Linked DNA regions of Homo sapiens: regions 2 and 3 are each reported to be linked to region 1. Evidence: microRNA targets listed by miRTarBase, many of them from high-throughput screens and not tested one by one. Region 1 holds a microRNA gene; each other region holds the end of a gene's coding sequence.

Region 1 (5,068 bases):
GAGAGAGAAAATTCATGAGAGGGGATGGCACTGGAGACAGCTGTCGGGCCGGGGGTGTCTCTCGGGAGTGGGCTCTGCCTGGGGAGGAGGGAGTGTGCTTCTCCCTGGCACCACCCCCCAGGGTCCCGCCACAACCCTGTACCTCCCACCCTGCAGGCTGCCTGCGCACCATCCACACTGTCCTCGTGGTGCTGGTTGAAGTTCTCATAGGAGTCCCAGCGCACGGCTGGCTCAGTGGTGTTGTAGTCGACAGAGACCGAGGGGTCGTTCCGTGGAGTGCTGCCTGTGGAAGGCCACTCGGGTATTGGGGAGCAGGGGAGAGGCGGCCCTCAGTCCCCAGCCCATGTCCCTGCTCTTACCTTTGATCTTCTCGGGGCTGGAGGAGAAGACAAACTCCACGGAGGCTTGGAAGGGGAACCTCTCATCTATGGGGAGTGGACAGTGAAGAACCAGGCCCCTGGCCCATACCACACTCTCCTGCCTGCCTGCCACCTGCCTGCCACCTGCCTGCCACCTGGACTCCAGCCCCAGGCCACTTGTCTCAGACTCACCAGTCCAGGCCTCGTCAAGCTGGTCCTTGGGGAAAGTGAGCTGTGGTCCGTGGATGGTGCAGGTGTGGAACTGGACTCGGAACACGAGGGTCCGGTCTGTGCCCCGGCCACCCTTGTGATAACATGTTACCTGGGAGAAAGGCAGGAGGCTGCGGATCAGGCCTCATGTCCTCTTCTGCGCTTCCACCCTGGGGACTGCCTGGTCACAGCTTCTGCCCTGCCTCGATCTCAAGGTGATCTCCCTACTCGCTCTCCAATCTGTCTCAAATTGGTGACTGTGCCGTTACACCACCAACCCCTGCCCCATCTCCAGGATTCTTCTTGTTGACAGGACCCCCCTCACCATGACATCGCCTTTGAGGAGGAGGGCTGGCTCCAGGCTGATGCAAAGCTGCTGGGGACCAGGGCCTGCAATGTGACTGTGGGGAGAGAGGAGAAGGCAGAGATGAACCAGAAGCTCCTGCGTGCAGAGGCAGCTATGCAGTCAGGGGGAGCCAGGAGACCAGAGTCTGAGCCCTGCCCAGGTGTCTAGGGAGGCTGGAGAAGCAGGAATGCAGGAGCAAGAGGGGCCCTGGTCATGAAGTGTCAGGGGCCTGGGAATAGAGCACTCACTAGACTCCAGATGTGTAGACAAGCTGCATGGACTGGTAGATTTTAAGGAAGGGCTGGAAGCCTGGAGGGGCAGAGGAGAAGGCACAGGAGGGGTGCTGAGTGGAGAGGGCCTGAAGGTGGTTCTCCCTAGGGAGCACATCTCAGGCAGACTCACCTGTGCCAGGTTCAAAGGCTGGCAGCATGGGGATGAGCACATAGTGCAGGAAGAGAGGGCTGCTGTTCATTCTGATGGAGCCAGATAGCAGCCCACTGAAGTAGCTGATATATCTGGTGGAGGGCGTGTCAAGGAGAACATAAGCCTTTTCCTCTGGAGGTCACCTTGTATCATTTCAACCATCCACCCTTAGAAGGCTCGCTCTTCTGCTCAACACTTCCTTCCCATCTTCCGGGTCACCAGAAAGTTCTTCCTTGCATCTAACCTCAATCCCTCCTGCTCCCCTCTGCCTCAAAGCTCTTTCCCCAGAGCTCTGCTTCACTTTATAGTGGCAGGCCCTGACTGTCCTTCAGGTTCTCTTTATGACTGATCTCCTCGTCTATTTATTCCCAGGTCTACTGCCTTCCACCCTACTAGCATGAAAGCTCCATGAGAGCAGGGGCTTTGTCCACTTTGAATTCTCAGCACCTGGCACGGCGCTTGGCACACTCAGTGAAAGTGTGCTGCATGAATAAGAGAGTCTTGGCCTTGGTAGCCATGAAGGGAGCTGCTCCTCTGGCCCATCCCCACCCAGGCTGCTCACCGACGCTGGGAGGGCTGCAGTTCTGTGGCCACCTTGTCCTCGCAGAATTTCCGCATGGTAAGAGTGGCCAGTGCCTGGTCCGCCCTGGGGATAGCAAGGCCAGTGTTGGGGATTAGGGATTAATCTTCATCCTGGCCTCCCATCCCTAAGCCCCAGGGGATGGAGGAGAAATATGATTCTCTAAGTCTAGAAGAAGCCCAGAGTAGTGGTAATGAGAATGAGAAGCACCATGTACAGTCACTTTACTAGTTGTTGGGCCTCAGGCAATTGTTCCCTGAACTTTAGTTTTTTCATCTGTAAAACAGGGCAACAAAACCATCTTATGGGTTGAATTATATCCCCCCAAAAGACATGTACCTCAGAATGTGACCTTATTTGGAAATAGGGCCGTTGCAGACATAATTAGTTAAGATGAGACCATACTGAAGGAGGGTGGACCCTGAATCCAATATGATTGGTGTCCTTATAAGAAGAGAGGAAGAGACACAGACAGAGACACACAGGGAGAACACCATGTGATGACAGAGGCAGCGATTACAGTGATGTGTCTGCAAACCAAGGAATGCCAAGGCTTGCCGCCCACCACTGGAAGCTAGAAAGAGACAAGGAAGGATTCCATCCCGAGTCTCAGATGGAGCAAGGGCCTGCTGACAGCTTGGTTTGGGGCTTCTGGCCTCCAGAACTGTGAGAGAGTACATTTCCACTGTTTTTTGTTTTGTTTTGTTTTTGTTTTTTTTGAGACGGAGTCTGACTCTGTCACCCAGGCTGGAGTACAGTGGCACCGTGTGGGCTCACTGCAACCTCCGTCTCCTGGGTTCAAGCAATTCTCCTGCCTCAGCCTCCTGAGTAGCTGGGATTACAGGCGCCCACCACCACGCCCGGCTAATTTTTATATTTTTATATTTTTGGTAGAGATGGGGTTTCACCTGGCCAGGCTAGTTTCAAACTCCTGACCTCAGGTGACCTGCCCACCTCAGCCTCCCAAAGTGCTGGTATTACAGGCGTGAGCCAACGCACCCGGCCCATTTCCACTGTTTTACACCACCCTGTTTGTGGCTGCCCCAGGAAACTCTACAGACCATCTGCTGCAGACTATGTTGCAGTACTAGTGATAAAAGGGAGGTGGAAGTGCTAAGCTGACAGCAAAGGACTCTCAACGAAGAGGTGGGCTCCAGGGGAGATGGGTTCCTAAGGGGCCAGCTGGAGAAAGGGCCACTGGGGAAGCAGCTACTCAGGCGCTGGGAGCCTCACCCTGCAGAGATCTTGCTGTAGTGCATGTAGGCAGAAACGATGACCCCAAGCTTGCCCTTGTTTCCCTGACAGACAGAGAGACAGGGATGAGGGTCTGGGAGCTCCAGGCTGACCTGGAACCTCCAGGCACCAGGGAACCCGAGGTCCTGGCCCACCTTGCAGTATAGTACGACCACGTGCTGTGGGTCAGCACTGAGCCATGTCTCCATGGCTTTGCAGATGGAGCACAGCTTGTCCAGGGGTGGAGCATGCAGCTCAGGCCAGCCGAAGTCTTGAACCTGGGGAGAATGCAGGGGTGCAACTGGGGCCGGGGGCCACCAACAGAGAGAGATGGGCAGGGTGGAAAGGGGACAGGGCATAGGGGTCCGGGGGCAAGGCTGGGGGTCTGCTGGTTGTCCATGATAGCCTCGGCACTTTCCTTATCCATACAATGGGCTGATACCTGCTGCATCACGTTTTGGGGTGTCTCCAGTAATATATCATGGGAGAGTGGGAAAGTGCTTAAGAGTGAAGTAGATGCCAATTGCTACTATTAATAACGAGGAAGCTGGGGGCTTCTGGGGTTGGGGTGGCTTGGTTTAATGGTTGGGCAGGCCATTTCCTTCATACCTTGGGGTTTAAGCGGGTCAGGTCATGCCTTTTCTCTGAAAGGTTGAAGAGCTGAAATAAAGGGGGAGGGCTTTAGACAGAAATGATCTCCGGCAATGAGGCACGAGGTGGAGGTGGATCCTAAGTAAGAATCTTCCTCTAAAATAAGGTGCAGGCCGGTCGCAGTAACTCACGCCTATAACCCCAGCACTTTGGGAGACCAAGGCGGGCGGGTCACCTGAGGTCAGGAGTTCGAGACCAGCCTGGCCAACATGGTGAAACCTCATCTCTACTAAAATTACAACAATTTGCCGGGTGTGGATCGCTTGAGCCCTGGAGTCTTGAGACCAGCCTGGCCAACATGGCGAAACCCCGTCTCTACAAAAAATACAAAAAAAAAAAAAAAAAAAAAAAAAAATTGGCTGGGCGTGAGTGACGCACGCCTGTAATCCTAGCTACTGAGGCTGAGGTGGGAGAATCGCTTGAGCCCGGGTGGAGGAGGTTGCAGTGAGGTGAGATCGTGCCACTGCACTCCAGCCTGGGCAACAAAGTGAGACCCCGTCTCAAAAAAAAGGTAAATAAATAAAGAAAATAAAAAGGTAGCTAAGGCCCGGCCTAGCCAGTCACAGCCAAGTCGCCAGCGTTCCAGGATTCTCCGCTCCGCTCCAGGCCGCGCTCCGGGCCCCGCCCCCACCCCACCACTCTGGTCCCGCCCCCTGGCGGCCTCGCCTCCGCTGGTGACGTCAGTGATTAGCCTCGCCCATCTGGACCCTACATCCCTCTCATTGGCGGACTCCTGATGGCCCCGCCCCTCACCAGGTACTTGTCCCGGTGCTTGGATTGCAGCACATGGGCCAGCTCGCGCAGGTGGCCCCGGTGCCGCTGTTCATCGGGCCGCGCGGGGAAGGCGGCGGCCAAGATGCGCTCCGTCACGTAGGTGAGGTCTAAGTCCCAGCGCCGCTCCATGAGCGGGTCCAGGCTGAAGCTCCTGGGGAGGAGGAGCCTACGCATGAACGCAGGGGCGGGGCACCCGGAGGTGGCTAGTGTGACGGGAAGGCTGTCTGTTGGGCAGCAGGTGAAGCCTGCTGGGTCCTGAGGGTGGGTGGATCGGTCTGGAGGGAGAATACCGCTTTGGGGGTGGGGGGCTGTCCCGGGGAGCTCTGTTGCGGGGCAGTGCCCTGGGCTGAGGTGTGGGGCCGGCGGAAAGGGGGTCACGTGGGACCACCCCAGCACCCTCACTTACCTGGGCAGAGTGCTGCGCTGCTTTGAGTGGTTCAGAGATTTGGTGGATCCCTGGTGGTTAACAGACAGTGTCTAGACATCTCTTTG
Region 2 (5,068 bases), not on the chromosome of region 1:
CCAAGGTCAGAATTCCCCCGAAGGGCAGTGCTGGGCGTGGGGGGCAGGGTGTGAAAAGGAGGCTGCGGAAAGGCATCCATGGCCACGGAGAGCGAGGCTGTCAGGGAGGCCGCTGCGGCCCGGGCAAGGGGAGGGCCGAACTCAGTCCGAAGTGGCTGGGGCCGGCTGTCCCTTGAGCCTGACTGCTCTTCCTCTTCAAAGCAGAAGCAGGACAGCAAGGAGGCCAACGCCAACGGTTCCAGCCCAGGTAAAGCCCCCATTCCTCTCGCCTCCCTTCCCTTTGCCATCCTCCTCCTCCTCCATCCTCACCTCTCTTGCCAGCCCCTGGCTGATGGCCCCTCTTTCCCTGTGACAGAGCCTGTGAAAGCTGTGGAGGCTCGGTCCCCAGGGCTGCAGAAGGAGGCTGTGCAGAAAGAGGAGCCCATCCCACAGGAGCCTCAGTGGAGGTACCAGCTTCCAATCCCAGGGTCCCTGAGCAGGGAGGCAGACTGCAGCTGGAGCTGCGGGGTGGCCTGGGCTTTCCTGGGAGGTGAGGTGCTGAGCCTTGGCCTCTGCATCCACAGTCTCCCAAGCAAGGAGTTGCCAGCGTCCCTGGTGAATGGCCTGCAGCCTCTCCCAGCACACCAGGAGAATGGCTTCTCCACCAACGGACCCTCTGGGGACAAGAGTCTGAGCCGAACACCAGAGACACTCCTGCCCTTTGCAGAGGCAGAAGCCTTCCTCAAGAAAGCTGTGGTGCAGTCCCCGCAGGTCACAGGTAGATCTCCTGATTCCTGGACCCAGCTCCATTCCTCCCAGCAGCCTTCCCTGTACTCCTCAGCCCTGCCTTCTCTTCTGGCTCTGCCAGGCACCCTCTCCTGCTCCACCCTGAAGACCCCCAGCTATCTGGGCTTGAGTGCTGTTTGCCCTGACTGTTTCCCTTCCTGTTTTTCCCCAGAAGTCCTTTAAGAGGGTTTGCCTTGGATCCGGGCACAGTTGTGAGGGCTCCTCTGCATCACCTACCAGGATGTCTGGAGGAGAAAAAGACAGAACAAAGATGGAAGTGGCCTGGGCCCCTGGGGGTGGGTCCTCTCTGTTGTTTTTAATCTGCACCTTATAGACTGATGTCTCTTTGGCCGGAGCCAGATCTGCCCCTCAGTGCATTCGTGTGCTCGCACGCGCAGACATCCCTTCTCCCCCATACACACATATACACTCACAGCCTCTCTGGCCTCTTCCCTTGGGGAGGGGCCACCTGTAGTATTTGCCTTGATTTGGTGGGGTACAGTGGATGTGAATACTGTAAATAGCTTGTGCTCAGACTCCTCTGCGTGGAGAGGGTGGGTGCAGGAGGCAGACCCTCCCCCCAAAGCCCCCTGGGGAGATCTTCCTCTCTCTATTTAACTGTAACTGAGGGGGATCCCAGGTCTGGGGATGGGGGACACCTTGGGCCACAGGATACTGGTTGCTTCAGGGGTACCCATGCCCCCTGCCCTCGCCTGGAATCAGTGTTACTGCATCTGATTAAATGTCTCCAGAAATAAAGAATAATTCTGCCAATCCTGCCTGTTCTTGGAGCTGGTGGCGGAGGTGGGAGCAGATGGCCTCCTGAGTTCTAAGAACTGAAGAAGCCTCGGGCTGGTGGTATTAGTCCTGAACTCCTGCCCTATGGTCTTCCAGTTTAGTCATGAATTCATTCATTTATTTATTCAACAAATACTGTTGCATCTACTCTGTGTCAGGCAGTAGGCTATGCACTGGGGATGCAATAGTCAGAAAGGATGTAATCTCTGTCCTTGTGCAGTTTATAGTCTAGTGGGTGAGTGTCGTGGACACTGTGGGCTGCCCACTCAACATCTATTCCCATTGCCCCTTCCTCATTCCAAATAATCTCTATTCAGGTAGCCATCTTTCTTTTAGATGGCACCCTGTGCTTCAGTGGAGGTGGATCTTAGCCGCAGGGGTGAATCGTGATTGTGACTGGGATCAAAAACAATGGTCCCAAACCCCTCATGATTGACTGGTGTAGGCATGGACATGTGACACAGTTTCAGCCAGTAGACATGAAGGGAAGCCTCCTGGGGGCTTCAGGAAGGGTATCCTCATTTTTTTTTTTTTGAGACGGAGTCTGGCTCCATCGCCCAGGCTGGAGGGCAGTGGTGCAATCTCAGCTCACTGCAACGTCCACCTCCCAGGTTCAAGCGATTCCCCTACCTCAGCCTCCCGAGTAGCTGGAACTACAGGCGCCAGCCACCACGCCTGCCTAATTTTTGTATTTTTAGTAGAGATGGGGTTTCACCGTGTTAGCCAGGATGTTCTCTTATCTCCTGACCTTGTGATCCGCCTGCCTCGCCCTCCCAAAGTGCTGGGATTACAGGCGTGAGCCACCGGCATCCTCATTTTTGACAATGTGGTCGTCAGCCTCTGTAATGACCTCTCGATGATGTCCCCTACCTCCTAGTATTCACACCCTTGTGTAGTTCCTTCCTATGTTGTATCAGGGTTGGGTTGAGTGGCCAATAGAATACGGCAGAAGTGATGGTGTGTCACATCTGAGATTAGGTATAAAAAACACTGCACTCATGCCTGTAATGCCAACACTTTGGGAGGCCAAGGCCAGTAGATTGCTTCAGCCCAAGAGTTCTAAGACCAGCCTAGGCAACATGGTGAAACCCCATCTCTAACAAAAATTCAAAAATTAGCCAGGCGTGGTGGCACATGCCTGTAATCCCACCTACTCAGGAGGCTGAAGTGGGAGAATCATCTGAGCCTGGGAAGTCAAGGCTGCAGTGAGCCCTGATTGTGTCACTGCACTCCAGCCTGGGCAACAGAGTGAGACCCTATCTCAAAAAACAAAAACAGGACAGGCGTGGTGGCTCACGCCTGTAATCCCAGCACTTTGGGAGGCCAAGGTGGGCAGATCACGAGGTCAGGAGATCGAGACCATCCTGGCTAACACAGTGAAACCCCGTCTCTACTAAAAATACAAAAAATTCTCCGGGCGTGGTGGCGGGCACCTGTAGTCCCAGCTACTCGGGAGGCTGAGGCAGGAGAATGGCATGAACCTGAGAGGCGGAGGTTGCAGTGAGCCGAGATCGCGCCACTGCACTCCAGCCTGGGTGACAGAGGGAGACTCTGTCTCAAAAAAAAAAAAAAAAAGCAGCAGCATTTAGGCCGGGCATGCTGGCTCATGCCTGTAATCCCAGCACTTTGGGAGGCTGAAGCAGGCGGATCACGAGGTCAAGAGTTCAAGACCAACCTGGCCAACATGGTGAAACCTCATCTCTACTAAAAATACAAAAAATTAGCCGGGTGTGGTGGTGCGCGCTTGTAGTCCCAGCTACTCGATAGGCTGAGGCAGGAGAATCGCTTGAACCTGGGAGGCGGAGGTTGCAGTGAGCCGAGATCTTGTTACTGCACTCCAGCCCAGGTAACAGTGCGAGACTCCATCTCAAAAAAAAAAAAAAAAAAAGCAGCATTTAAACTGGACCTGAAGAAGGATAGGGAGGAGCCAGCCTTGTGAAAGGAAGGAGGAGGCAAGTTGCAGATGGAGGGGTCAGTATGCAGGAGGCTGGGAATTCCAGGGACAAAGGAGCAGGAGCTCCTCTTGCTGGAGCATCAAAGGGGAGAGGTGCTAGATGGGGTTGGAGAGGTGGGCAGGGCTAAGTCACAGCGCTCTAGGGACAGTAAGGGGCAGGAAGGGACTAGCACACTCATTCAGCTCTCTGCTTGGTGAGAGCTCCTATATGTATGCCCCTCCCGGCCTCCCCTCCTCAGCCATCACCCACCAGCTCCTATGTACAGTGAGGCAGAGGTGCCAACATTTCCCTGAAGGGCAGAACTCTGAATACTCTTATGGGGGAATTGTTTACTCATTCATTTAGTCAATCAGTAAATTGCCTGTGGAGCACCAGCTGAGCACCGGAGGGAAACGATGGTAAGCAAAAACCAGACGTAGAAGCTCCTGGCGCTTCCTGGCAAGGAAGATGGGTATAAACCAAATCACCATATCACCACAGGAACAAATGTTAAAAAAGAAAATGTGGTGAGTGCTGTGAAGTCAAACATAGGGAGCAGTTAAGAGCGTATACAGGGGGACCTAAACTAGCTTCAGGTCGGATAAGATATCCCTGAATGAATGGTGTGTAATCAGATCTGATGGGTGAGTAGGTGTTGACTGGGCAAAGTCAGGAAGGTAGAGAAAGAAGGAGAGGGAAAGGACTGGATTCCAGAACAAGGGAAACCACATGCACAGGCTGTGGATGGGAAGGAGGTATGTTCAAGTATCTAGAGGACTAAGCAGAGCTGAAGGAGTCTGTTTTTGCTCACCCCAGAGCCTGGTGGAACAGGCACTCAATATTTGTTGAATTAAGAAATGTCAGTTGAGGAGGTGGAGCTTGGCATGAGGTGAGCTAGACCATGCAAGGCCTTGTAAGGCTGTGGTCAAGAGCTTGGATTTTATTCCAAGGGCCATGGGAAGCCACTGAAGGCTATTCAACAGGGGGTGGAAGGGTGGCATGATCAGATAGGCAGTTTTTTGTTTTGTTTTGTTTTGGTTTTTTGAGACGGAGTTTTGCTCTGTGGCCCAGGCTGGAGTGCAGTGATGTGATCTCTGCTCACTATAACCTCTGCCTCCGGGGTTCCAGCAATTCTCCTGCCTCAGCCTCCCGAGTAGCTGGGACTTACAGTCACACACCACCACCTCCGGCTAATTTTTGTATTTTTTTTTTTTTTTTTTTTTTTTTTGAGATGGAGTCTCGCTCTGTCACCCAGGCTGGAGTGCAGTGGCGCGATCTCGGCTCACTGCAAGCTCCACCTCTCGGGTTCACGGCATTCTCCTGCCTCAGCCTCCCAAGTAGCTGGGACTACAGGCGCCAGCCACCATGACTGGCTAATTTTTTTGTATTTTTAGTAGAGACAGGGTTTCACCGTATTAGCCGGGATAGGATGGTCTCGATCTCCTGACCTCGTGATCCGCCCGCCTCGGCCTCCAAAAGTGCTGGGATTACAGGCGTAAGCCACTGTGCCTGGCCTAATTTTTGTATTTTTAGTAGAGATGGGGTTTCACCATATTGGTCAGGCTGGTCTC
Region 3 (5,068 bases), not on the chromosome of region 1:
AGGGTGTTTACAGATGGGGAACAGTAGGTTATAATTTTAAGTACATAGTATTCATTATTTTTCTTTCATGACCAAAACATGCAAAGGGAAGACTTGTTTTTTTTTTTTAGACTGAGTCTTGCTCTGTCGCCCAGGCTGGAGTGCAGTGGCGCGATCTCGGCTCACTGCAAGCTCCCCCTCGGGTTCACGCGATTCTCCTGCCTCAGCCTCCCGAGTAGCTGAGACTACAGGTGCGTGTGCCACCACGCCAGGATAATTTTTGTATTTTTAGTAGAGATGGAGTTTCACCATGTTGGCCAGGATGGTCTTGATCTCCTGACCTCGTGATCGGCCCACCTCAGCCTCCCAAAGTGCTGGGATTACAAGCGTGAGCCACCGAGCCCAGTCTAGGAAAACCCTTAAGACTGGAAGTGTTCATGAGTCTGTCAACCTCACAAATGAGAAAGTGACTTAAAACATCTCAGCATTGGCCTGGCGTGGTAGCTCATGCTTGTAATCCTAGCACTTTCGGAGGCCAAGGTGGGAAGATCTCTTGAGCTTAGGAGTTTGAGAAGAGTCTGGGCAACATGGTGAAACCTCTACAAAAATTGAAATAGGCCAGGTGCAGTGGCTCACGCCTGTAATCCCAGCCCTTTGGAGGCCAAGGTGGGTGGATCCACCTGAGGTCAGGAGTTTGAGACCAGCCTGCCCAACATGGTGAAACCCCATCTCTACTAAAAACACAAAAATTAGCTGGGCGTGGTGGCATGTGCCTATAATCCCTGCTACTAGGGAGGCTGAGGTGGGAGGATCGCTGGAACCCAAGAGGCGGAGGTTGCAGTGAGCTGAGATTACACCATTGCACTCCACCCTGGGTGGCAGAGCATGACTCTGTCTCAAAGAAAAATAAATACAAAATAAAATAAAATCTTAAAACATCCAGCCAGGCGCAGTGGCTCATGCCTGTAATCCCAGCACTTTGGGAGGCAGAGGCAGGTGGATTACCTGAGGTCAGGAGTTCGAGATCAGCCTGGGCAACACGGTGAAAACCTGTCTCTACTAAAAATGCAAAATTAGCCGCGCGTGGTGGCCCATGCCTATAATCACAGCTACTCAGGAGGCTGAGGCAGGAGAATCGCTTGAACCTGGGAGGTGGAGGATACAGTAAGCCGAGATCGTGCCATTGCATTCCAGCCTGGGCAACAAGAGTAAATCTCCATCTCACCAAAAAAAAAAAAAAAAAAAAAAAAAACAAAAACCAAAAAAACAAAACATCCAGATGTGGCCAGGGTCTGACTTCAGAGAAGCCCAGTGAGCCTGGCCCCAGTGACCAGCTCCCTGGGAAGTCTTCCTTCAGGTTTTAGGCCGTTTCACCACCCTAAAGGCAAGGTCAACCCGTGTTCTAGGTTAATCAGCTCTTCTTGTTCTAGACTTAATCTCTGTTAAGTAATGTCCTTCATTGAGAAAACCAGGCTATTCCCTAGAAATCACCAACTAAAAATAGATGTCAGGGCCAGGCATGGTGGCTTGTGCCTATAATCCCAGCAATTTGGGAGACTGAGGTGGGTGGATCACTTGAGGTCAGGAGTTTGAGACCAGCCTAGTCAACATGGTGAAACCCCATCTCTACTATACAAAAATTAGCTAGGCATGGTGGTGGGTGCCTGTAGTCCCTGATACTTGGGAGGCTGACAAGAGGATCATTTGAACCCGTGAGGCGGAGGCTGCAGTGAGCCGAGATCACGCCACTGCACTCCTGTCTGGGTGACAGAGGGAGACCCTGTCTCTGAAACACCGGTCCTCTCTACCACCTACTCTTGGGTAGAAAGTAGTTGAAGCAAAAGAGTTACTCTAGGCTCCCACCTGAACAGCCCTTGCCTGCCTTACTAAAATTTAGTCGTGGTCCGGGGTCCTCCATCACCAGACAATGCTCCTACCTCAAGGTAGGCAAGGTCTGCCTTGGCCAGGCCCTTCCAAAGTCAGCCAGGACTTTGCCAAACACGCATTCATGCCCCGCACCTTGCCCACTCAGCTCTTCTTTGTCTGCCTAAGTCAATTTTAACACTATCCAATACCAACCTATAGCAGCACCTCCCCAGAGTCAGGATCTGCTGTCAGGAAGCAGCAGCCCTCCCAGCCATGAGGGGCACCTAGAATTTCGTTTACAAGCAGTTGTTAAAAGAAGCCACATGTTGTGTAAATGCTTGATTTCTTCCATCTTGGGAAAAAAATGTTCCTTTACCTAACCAAAAACAGCCAGACTTTCAAGGTTTCTGCCTGGTTGGGAAAAGGACATTTTTAGCAAGTGAGGGGAAAAAATTGGCATCCTATTTCTAATCATCACCAGCTTTTAAAATAACTTCACTCATCCCAGAATTAAAATGACAGGAAGACTCTTCCATTTCAATGGTGCTTCCCAAATTTAAAATTGTTACATTCCATGAGCAGCTAAAAAGAACTCAAAAATAAAGGCAAGCATTAAATATTACGTAAGGTTTTCTTTTATTTAAAAGATCATTCACAAAATACCATATCCATAGATTTACTTTCTGTCATATAGCTGAATGTGTTAAGTGTTTGGAATTCCATTCTTACATTTAAAAGTCAACTGGATTGCCCAGCAGTTTAGATGCATGTGTTTTGTTCTTTATCTTATCCACATTGAAGATGTAAGTAGGTCATCTGAAAGCATCGGGTTTGATTACACCACATAATGCATGTCTTTCTGAAGTTAAGTGTTGGTGTTACACAAATGGTTCTTATCTCAGAAGCAGAGAAGCTGACAGGTGGAAGGAAGGAGAGAGAGTTCTGTGGATTGCTGAGGCCTTGTAACAAGACACAGTAGGAAAAGCCCAGGATGACGGCTGGTGACCAAATACTAAGCACATTCCGCTGGGTGCCCCAGGCCACCCTGGCCCTGCCATCACCTGGCGAGGGCCTCTTTCCCAGGCTCCTGCTGCCGGCCGCCCCCAAACTGCTCCCCATAGGACAGACTGGGACTTGGGTACTGAAGGATTTTTCATCTGTTCACACGCAGGCGTTCAAGCTCAAAAGCCTAACCCCTAGCACTCCCACATAACTGCTGAACCCTGCACATGGGAACAGTCCAGTGTGTCCCCAAGATGTGGCCGCAGACCTAGACAGCTGCAGTCCTCTACTGCTATCTGAAGGTTCCTGACAGCTCTGCATAGTACAATTTATCAAAGGAAATGAGTAAAGTGCCAGATTCTAGACCCATTTTGGCTCTGAACTGAAGGGGAGGTGGGAAGCACAGTATCTCATTATGTTGCCTATACTAGGAACAGATCCACACAACACACAGGCAACAGGGATGGGGGGAAACGCTGCGTCAGCGCCGCAGTCAGCCCAGTGCAGCACCAGCACCACCCCCTCCACCCCCAAAGCGCCTTGGCCCAGCAGAAAAGAAACCCGCTGGCCATTCACTGCACCCAGCCAGAGAGGCCAGCCTCCACCACGCACGGCGAAAGGAGTGAACTAGCTGGGACACACACACGTGTGAATGCATGCAAGCATTCACTGCATCTTCTCCGTGGACTCCCTACCGCTCTTCCATAGCCCCCCCTTTCAGCCTCACTGTTTCTCGTGTGAGCCTATCTGCTTGGACAGTCCACTCGGGAGGGGGTCATGGAGCCAGGACTCCCTCTAAATAGGAATGGAAAGGACCCTGCAGATATTTTTATCCTAGTTGTGAAAACAAGGTGCCTCTGATTCTCTATATCCATCACAGCTGAATACCAACAAGGTCTCTGCTGTTCCCTCTGTCAGTGACTCTGGTTTTTGTTGGAAGCCCCAGCAATACAGAACTCAACATGCAGGTCAGAAGAGAAGCACTGAGGGAATGAAAGGAAACGCCTGGAGTTGGGCCAGTGTCTAAAGTAAAGAGAAAGCAAAGGAAAAATGACGCAGCACCGCAGCCCAAACGCCCCCCCACGGCGGCCACCTCTGCTCCTCCGAGGAACCCCATGTGCTGCTGGGAAAACAAGGAGCAGGAGAAAAAGGACAGAAGGAAAATGGGGAAGCAGCGGAAGAAAGAAAAAAACGCACAAACAGGCACTAGATAGATACAGCAAAGCCCAGAATGTACTAAAAACCACTTGTTAACAGCTGACATGCACTCACAAGCTGTGTTTCCGCTGTGAGGAGGCCAATGGCAGGCGCAGGAGTGGCGGCTGCAGGACGGCTGCCCGGGGACTCACCAGGCTGTGGTCCTGCTCTAACCCCCCACGCCCCATTCCCTCCCAACCGCAGGCTCATTCTTGCTCCTTTTGAACGACTTCCTCTCTAGGCCTGGCACCCCCGAAGATAGCAGAGTTGGGATTGGCTACTTGATTGAGGGGCGTCGCGACTGTTCGAGGTTTAAGCTGGAGTCGTGGTCTCTGTGCTCTTTCCTCTGGGGGAGAAAAAGCAGAGTTTGTCAGAGTGTGGATCCCATTCCATATCCAGCAAAACGACCATGCTGATGTTGCTGTCAGCAAACCAGCCCACTTTCTAAAATTCACCTGGCCTGCTACCCCAACAGCAGATGCTCTAATGACCAAGGTGAACTTGCTATTCCAGAGAACGTGGGGATCTATGCCGACAACTCTGTGTGCCGTAGAACGCCAAGTCCCCACGGGGTGTGAACCGGCCATGATCATCCCATCAGGACAAGATGCCCTCCACTGACACATGAGCCCGTACCTTCTGTGGGTTCTCTGAAATCCATGTTGGATCCACGGAGGGGAGGGCCATCTCTGAAGCGGCTGCCCATGGGGGGGCCTGTTCGCCGGTCGCCTGGGCGACTACCTCCCCTGCCCCCTAAGAAGTCATCCCTGAAGCCTGAGGAAGAAACAGGACACTGAATTACTTTTCAAACTATCGTCTCCAAGCTGCTTATAGAATAATGTTCTGGGAATTGTTTGAGTTTCATTTTAAATTCTTTAGTTTGTCCACTATCTGAAGTCTCTCCAAAATAAAGTGTGTTAAAAGTGGGTCCAAATGCCAATGTGTGGAGTAATGACAGCGCTAACAGACTTCCCAAAGAAAAAGGAATCAAGATCTTAGGAGAGCAAACAAACGAGCTGTTTAC

What was found. Region 1 holds the annotated microRNA hsa-miR-6757-5p (UAGGGAUGGGAGGCCAGGAUGA, at 2,027-2,048, opposite strand). A microRNA usually pairs through its seed, bases 2 to 8, with sites in the 3' UTR of a target mRNA and lowers its output. Matches are read on the target gene's strand: a 7mer-m8 pairs with bases 2 to 8, a 7mer-A1 pairs with bases 2 to 7 and ends in A, and an 8mer does both.
Region 2: miRTarBase lists MAP7D1 as a target of hsa-miR-6757-5p. Seed matches in the 3' UTR shown: 7mer-m8 at 1,165-1,171.
Region 3: miRTarBase lists EIF4H as a target of hsa-miR-6757-5p. Seed matches in the 3' UTR shown: 7mer-m8 at 3,307-3,313.

The regions. Positions count from the first base shown.
Region 1 is chr12:53,053,929-53,058,996 of GRCh38, reverse strand. MIR6757 (microRNA 6757) reads right to left here and starts at 2,053; the gene lies at 1,985-2,053. TNS2 (tensin 2) reads right to left here. Exons shown (of 29, transcript NM_170754.4): 6 at 4,983-5,032; 7 at 4,556-4,727; 8 at 3,761-3,811; 9 at 3,307-3,429; 10 at 3,152-3,216; 11 at 1,901-1,984; 12 at 1,318-1,430; 13 at 1,164-1,224; 14 at 895-970; 15 at 552-681; 16 at 360-425; 17 at 170-283. TNS2-AS1 (TNS2 antisense RNA 1) reads left to right here and starts at 4,559. Exons shown (of 4, transcript NR_033854.1): 1 at 4,559-4,676.
Region 2 is chr1:36,179,311-36,184,378 of GRCh38, forward strand. It overlaps MAP7D1 (MAP7 domain containing 1), which reads left to right. Exons shown (of 17, transcript NM_001388490.1): 13 at 1-5; 14 at 205-247; 15 at 356-446; 16 at 564-757; 17 at 938-1,539. The coding sequence ends at 948. Among named protein-coding and RNA genes, the nearest start is that of MAP7D1, 26 kb to the left of the region's middle. RefSeq lists an enhancer at 1-149.
Region 3 is chr7:74,194,491-74,199,558 of GRCh38, reverse strand. It overlaps EIF4H (eukaryotic translation initiation factor 4H), which reads right to left. Exons shown (of 7, transcript NM_022170.2): 6 at 4,681-4,818; 7 at 2,463-4,390. The coding sequence ends at 4,251. Among named protein-coding and RNA genes, the nearest start is that of MIR590, 5.8 kb to the right of the region's middle. RefSeq lists an enhancer at 2,919-3,420.